Linked DNA regions of Homo sapiens. The protein of the gene in region 1 purifies or fractionates together with the protein of each later gene. This does not show direct contact. Each region holds a gene or a part of one and is shown on either strand. Other genes may lie near its edges.

What was found.
Region 2: the proteins of DEFB131A (region 1) and LRRC8A purify together in Homo sapiens (affinity purification with mass spectrometry; one large-scale study listed by BioGRID and IntAct). This does not show direct contact.

Annotation. Positions count from the first base shown.
Region 1 is NC_000004.12:9,443,255-9,447,213, reverse strand, and holds the start of DEFB131A (beta-defensin 131A precursor), read right to left. Parts: upstream 2,801-3,959; 5' UTR 2,681-2,800; coding exon 2,623-2,680; intron 1-2,622.
Region 2 is NC_000009.12:128,885,133-128,888,632, reverse strand, and holds part of LRRC8A (volume-regulated anion channel subunit LRRC8A), read right to left. Parts: exon of another isoform or gene 3,245-3,500; intron 2,619-3,244; 5' UTR 2,512-2,618; intron 1-2,511. UniProt on the Homo sapiens protein: Essential component of the volume-regulated anion channel (VRAC, also named VSOAC channel), an anion channel required to maintain a constant cell volume in response to extracellular or intracellular osmotic changes.

The sequences.
Region 1 (3,959 bases):
TCAACATCATGATAACTGAGGGCTTCAATATCCCACTTTCAGCATTGAACAGATCATCTAGGTAGAAAGCTAACAAATAATCATTGAATTTAATCTGTACCGCAGACCAAATAGACTTAACAGACATTTACAGAACACTTCATCCAATAGCTGTGGAGTACACATTCTTCTCCTCATCACATAGAACATTCTCCAGGCTGGACCATATGTTAAGACACAAAACAAGTTTCAACAAATTTTGAAAAATCAACATTATATCAAGTATATTCTAGACAAAAATAGAATAGAACTAGAAATGAATACTAGGAAGAACTTTGGAAACGATACAGATAACATGGAAATTAAACAACATGCTTCTGAACAACCATTGAGTCAATGAAAAAACAAAGAAGAAAATAACAAATGTTCTTGAAATATATGCAAATGGAAACACAACATACCAAAACCTATGGAATACAACAAAGACAGTGCTAAGAGAGAATTTTATAGCAATAAATGCCTACTGCAAGAACATGGTAATATTATAAACAAGCTACTATGCACCTCAAGGAACAAGAAAAACAAGAAAAAATGAAATCCAAACTTAGGAGAAGGAAAGAAATAATAAAAATCAGAGCAGGACTAAGTGAATTCAAGATTTAAAAAATGCAAAGAATTAATGAAACAAAAAGTTGACTTTTGGAAGAGATAAACAGACTTTATAAACTGCTAGCTAGACTAACCAAGAACAAAAGAGAGAATGCCAAATAAATAAAATCGGAAATAAAACAGGAGACATTACAACTGATATAAAAGAAATACAATGGATCATTAGTCTGTTATAAACAACCATATGCTAAATAATCCATACGAAGAATTTTTTTTTACCAACACCAATAATCAATCTAACTTTCCCAAATTCATTTTAAAATCCACCAATACTTTATAATAAATCATATTAAACTGTGGTTTATACCTGAGATTTAGATTATCAATTGACTTATTTATCTTTTCTGAGGCTCATATTACCTCCGAGCACATTTTAAAATTTATTTCAAGATTCTATCATTTATATAATTATACAGAATTATACTTTTCCTCCATGAATGTTGGTGTTTTATATTTTTATTGAGATAGAATTTACTATAAAATTCATTCCTTTAGAGTGTTCCATTTAGTGAGTATCAGTGGATTCTTAGAGTGGGATATACTGATGACCACTGAATGAAGGAATGAAGTACGAATCTATGCCACAACATGGATGAATCTTGAAAACATTATGCTAAATAAAAGAAGGCAGACATGAAGGATCACATATTTCTTATTCTGTTCATAGTAAATGTCCAGAATAGGAATATACATAGAGACAAAAATTAGATCAGTGGTTGCTAGGGACTGGGAGGAGGAGAGATTTCTTCTTGCGGTTATAAACATATTCTGGAATTAGATAATGGTGAGGGGTGCACAATTTTAAGAATACACTGATAACCACTGAATAGAACACTTTAAGGCAATGAATTTTATGGTAAATTGTATCTCATAAAAATATAAAAAACCCACTAACATTCATGGAGGAAAGGCATAATTATTTATAATTATATAAATAAGGGAATCTTGAATCATGAAGTATTATATAAATGAGGGAATCTTGAATTGTTAAGTATTAAAATGTGCTTCAGAAATGATCAATAAGTCAACCAGTAATCTAAATCTCAGGTATGAACCGCAGTTTAATATGTTTTTATTATGGGGTATTGATGAATTTTAAAATTAATGTGGGAAAGTCGTATTGATTATTTAATTAATATGCTTATATATAATTGGCTAGTTATGTGGTTAAAAATTAAGGTGGAATCTTAACTCTCACCATACAAAAAGTAATTTCCATATACATTAAATGATATCATATGAGTTTTATTCAACTTTAAAGGAACACAGAGGCTAGGTCCTTGCCTGGATCAGTGGTGAATTTATCCTGTGAACCAAGGATTATGGTGGAGTATCCACCTCTTCACCTCTAGCCCTTCTTCTAGTCATCATTCACTTTTCCTTTTTCCAATTCTTTAAATTTCCTGTGTTCTGTGTGTATCCTCTCACCATCTTTTGATCAAACATAACTCTCAAGTAAGTTTATTTTTTATTATTATTATTTTTTGAGACAGGGTCTCACTCTGTTGCCCAGGCTGGTGTGCAGTGGCATGACCTAAGCTGAATGCAGCCTTGACATCTCAGGCTCGAGCGATCCTGCCTAAGCTTCCTGAGTAGCCAGAACCACAGACACGCGCCACTATACCTGATTAATTTTTTGTATTTTTTTTTTTTTTTTGGAGAGATGGGGTTTCACCCTGTTGCCCCCACCAGGTCGGTCTAGAACTCCTGTGCTCACCCACCTCAAACTCCCCAAGTGCTGGGATTATAGACATGAGCCACTGTGCCCGGCCTCAAGTGAGTTTATCATAGGTTAAATCACTGCAGTGAACCACCTTATTTATTTCTTTAGTATCAACTCTTCAATCCTCTGAGCAGCCTTCATGGTACAGTAAAATCTGCCCATGCCTATTTTATTTTCAGACTCTTGAAAGACCTTGCATTTTCTTTTACTTATATTTTTAGAACTTTGGAATAAAAAAGTTTCTGTCTTACCTGGAGGAACTGTGAACATCAAGGAAAGGACTCCAAAGACAAAAAACAAGACCCTCATGGTTGAATAGGTAAAGCAGGTTAGAGAGAATCAGTAGCTGAGATGAAGAGGACTTCTGTGTACATTCAGTTCTCTGAAGAGGTGAGTTGTTGAGTGATTATTGAACCTTTCAGGAGCAAGAACATTTCTGTGTTTCAAGGAGATTTTATATCAGGAGAAAGCATGCAATCATCACGACTATCAGTCATTTAAAGTACATTTATCAAAGGTCAAGAGGGTGTGTGCAAAGGTAGTAGAAAGCACAGCCATGGCAAAGGCAGGAGAGAGACTTGAAATATCAGCATTGTCTTATGCATTCTGGAGGAACTGTAAAAGTTAAGGAAGCAGTTATAGAGGAAAAGCATTCATTTTATTTTTCTGATAATAGGAAGAAGCACGTAATACAAGAGCATGCCTATTTATTAATATTTTGGCACCGTGTGTTAGCATGCTTAAGCAATGGAATTAAATATGAAATTATAAACAGATTAGTGAGATACAGAACAACTTTTATTTGATTATCTTTCTGTCCAATCGATCAAATGAGATAAACTAATTTTTCTATTGAAATCTAAGTTCACACAAATTGTTTGCACATCAGTTATGTGTAATATGAGAGGAATTAAAGAAAGAAAAGTGGGCCTTAGGGAACCCATAATACACTTCGGAAAGCAAGTAATATATACAAAGAAACGGCAATGCAACACGAGCATATTTCTGGCAAAGAGGCACAAATTACTTCTTAGACACTAAGGAAATGAACATAAACACCAGAATACTTTGGGTGCCGTAGGGAATGCTTAAAGAGGGTATGAGTAAACTTTATTTATTTATTTATTTTTTATTTAGAGACAGGGTCTCACACTGTTGCCCAGGCTGGAGCGCAGTGGTGCGATCTTGGCTCACTGCAACCTCTGCCTCCCGGGTTCACGTGATTCTCCTGCCTCAGCATCCTGAGTAGCTGGGATTACAGGCACACGTCTCCATGCCTCGCTAAGTTTTGTACCTTTAGTAGCAATAGGGTCTTGCCATGTTGGTCAGGCTGGTCTCGAACTCCTGGCCTCAAGTGATCCACCCGCCTCGGCCTCCCGAAGTGCTGGGATTACAGGGGTGAGCCACCACGTCTGGCCAGAATATCAACTTCAGAAACTGCAAAGTACATGCACATTCGTGGTCTTACTTGACCTTCATTCCTTTCTAGATGGTGTCACTACAGGTGAAGTAACTTTTCTCAGTACCAAGAAGGAAGTTCTCTTTCTTCCATGGCTTCTTCTTGGTGCTACTTCTATAATACTTCAGA
Region 2 (3,500 bases), on another chromosome or scaffold:
CCTGAGGTCAGCTATACCCCAAAAGAGAGCATCTTTGGACCCAGGTGGCAGGGTGGGCCCTCCTCCTGCTCCTCACCTGCCCACTCTCAGAACTAAAACTTGAAAGGAGCATGCCAAAAGGACCACAACCAACACTTCCTCCAGATACAGCAAGGGTAAACTGAGTCAGGGTCTGCCTGTTCCTTCCTATCCCCAGGAAGGGCTGGGCTCAGGAGAACAATGGCTCAGACTCAATTTGTCTCAGCTTGATTCATGTGTGTCCCCTGAACCCAGGTGGTGGGTGGAGGCCAAAACCCCTCAGGCCGGCCCATGCGGTTCATTCCACGCCATCCTTGGCAAAAAGGAGGAATTATGATCTGACAAGCAGGACCTGCTGCTTCCTGCTCAGCGCTGCCCAGCATGAAAGACTACAGCTCAGGCCTCCCCTCTCTCCAGGGGACAGAGTTCCTCAAAACCAACAGGAAACTCCTATGGGGCAGAGCCAGGAGTTGGCTGACCTTATCCCATAAACAGGAGAGTCGACACAATCACACACCAGGCACTTCCGACCTCCCTCTGCTGCTGTAAATGCCCAAACAGCTCAAAACTCCCAGCATGTGAGGGGGAGGGGCCAGGGGGGCTCAAGGGTGTGCATTCTGCCAGGACCACACACAGCTCTATCTACCTCTTGCATGGGAAAGAGGTCCAGGGGAGCCGGGCGCGGTGGCTCATGCCTATAATCCCAGCACTTTGGGAGGCCAAGGCGGCGGATCACAAGGTCAGGAGATCAAGACCATCCTGGCTAACATGGTGAAACCCCGTCTCTACTAAAAATACAAAAAAAATTAGCCGGGCGTGGTGGCGGGCGCCTGTAGTCCCAGCTACTCGGGAGGCTGAGGCAGGAGAATGGAGTGAACCCGGGAGGCAGAGCTTGCAGTGAGCTGAGATTGTGCCACTGCACTCCAGCCTGGGTGACAAAGACTCCATCTCAAAAAAAAAAGAGGTCCGGGGGATATCATTATATGAAACAAAAGCAAACTGTGAATCAGCAACTCAAACATGACCAGATTTTTATAAAAATAAGCAAATGGTAACAATAGATGTGGAAGAATATACCCCTTCCCATTCACACCTCTGAAGATGAGAATCAGCAGAGACTCATTTCCTAGATGACATTAAAGATCCAAACAGGTCTGGCATGGTGGCTCACACCCATAATCCCAGCACTTTAGGAGGCCAAGGCAGGAGCATCTCTTGAACCCAGGAGTTCGAGACCAGCCTGGGCAATGTAGAGAGGCTCTATCTCCATAATAAATAAATAAATAAAATTAGCTGGGCACAGTAGTGCACACCTGCAGTCCCAGCTAGTTGGGAGGCTGAGGCAGGAGGATCGCTGGAGCCTTGGAGATCGAGGCTGCAGTGAGTCATGATGGTGCCACTGCACTCCAGCCTGGGCAACAGAGTGAGACCCTGTCCCCCAAAAATAGCCAAACAGTATAAAACCATATAATGAATATACAACTATGTTGGTAATTACAAAAAAAAAAAATTACTATTTCTTTTAAAATCCAGGCTGGGAGACTCAGGCCTTCCTTCACACAAAAAACTGAGGTGAGAGATAAAGGCAGGAAGGCCTCAGGGCAGACAACAGAAGACCCTGGCCCAGGATTCCAGGGTCTGGATTCAAGCCGCATGTCCTTGCCTTCTTTACAGATGAGTCTGGGCAAGCTGCTTCCTCACTCTGATTCTCAGTTTCCACATCTGTAAACTGGAGATAATGGCCACTGCCTAAGCATCCTCAAATGGTCAAATGAGATCACCGACCTGAGTATGTCTGGCAAATTACACAGCCGTCTATACACACACCAGCTATGACTCGGGACCACCTTCTAGGACATGCACTCTGCCAACTGCCTGCTCTATGTCAACATATTTAATCCTCCAAATGTTCTAAAGGGACTCTCCTGCCTCTGGGAACTGTTTTCCAAAGCACAGGCCAAGGAATCCCAGTCCCCAAAGATGTCTACACGATCAAATAAGTGTGGGGAAACACGAGTCGCTAGCTCCCTTATCGTGATCAGCTCAATCCTGATGACGGCTCTGATTCAAGACTCTGATAAGTCCTGCAGCAAGGATAACAAGAAGTCTTTGTTTCCTGGAATTATCAAACCACTGTGACCGAAGAAACTGGTGTCTCATGGAACACACTTGGGAAACGTGGTCCACGCTTTTTGGGAAATGTGGTCATGAGGCTGCATTAGCAAGACCCAGACTGATAAGATCTGGGGTGAAGGAGAAAAAACAGAGGTTTGCAATGAAACAACTCAGCATTCAATGAGTGCGGCAAGCACACATTACTCAGCGGGAGAAGGAGGAAGAGAGTAATTCTGCTGTCTGCCACTCTACCCTGGACCTACAGCAAGAAAAGCAAAGGACTGTGGGGATGGAGATGCTACCCTTTGCTCCCCAGGCTGGGAAGGGCACTTGACTGGAGCTGGAGCTGGCTGAGAAGGAGAGGGGCCCAGTCCTTACCCCAAGGATGGCTCTGCTATCTGCGCGTCGGCTGTCGGTGCTGAGGCTGGCCCGCGTCTGCCTGTGCAGGATCCTGGCATTCCTTTTGCTCCATGGACGCTGCCTCCCTACAAGGAAGCGAGAGCTGCCGTCAGCAGGCACATGTGTGACTGTCGCAGTTACCTGCCACACCGCCAGCACTTCCTGAGAGCCTGCTTGGTAGCAGGCCCTTGGCTGGGCTCTGGGGTGACAAAAGAGGTTTTTTTTGTATAGTGGTGCAATCTCGGTTCACTGCAACCTCCGCCTCCCGCATTCAAGTGATTCTCCTGCCTCAGCCTCTCGAGTAGATGGGATTTCAGGTGCGCACCACCAAGCCTGGCTAATTTTTTGTATTTTTAGTAGAGACAGCGTTTCCCCATGTTAGCCAGGCTGCTCTCAAACTCCTAACCTCCAGGGATCTGCCCGCCTCGGCCTCCCAAAGTATTGGGATTACAGGCATGAGCCACCGCGCCTGGCAGACAAAAGAGGTTCTGACAGAGCACCTCCCTCCAGAACCTGGTCTACTGAGGAGGTGCCAAGTCAGTAGCGACGGTCTGAGAGCTCAGAGCTCTGCTGCGGGGGAGCCAGGAGAAGCACTAGACCCAGACTAGTGGGGTCAGGGAAGGCTTTCTGGAGGAGGAGTTGTCTGAGTTGACTCCTAAGAGTAGGAGCTGGAAAAAGAGCATTCCAGGCAGGAGGAACAGCACATGTTTACCTGGAGGAGAGAGTACATGGCATCTGGAGAAGGCTTGCGGGCTCGGCATGGCGAGATCCAGAGCCAGAGAGGGGAAGTGGCAAGAGATGAGCCACAGTGGGGTGGCTGGGTCAGGCAGAGACCAGCCAGTGCCCAGACTCCAACTTAAACACCAAATCCACCCATCATCTCCGACAGTCAACCAGCCTCTGGTGAGCATCTACTCCATATGCGCCAGACACTGTGCAGAACTGTGCATGGGAGTGGCAGGGTAGGG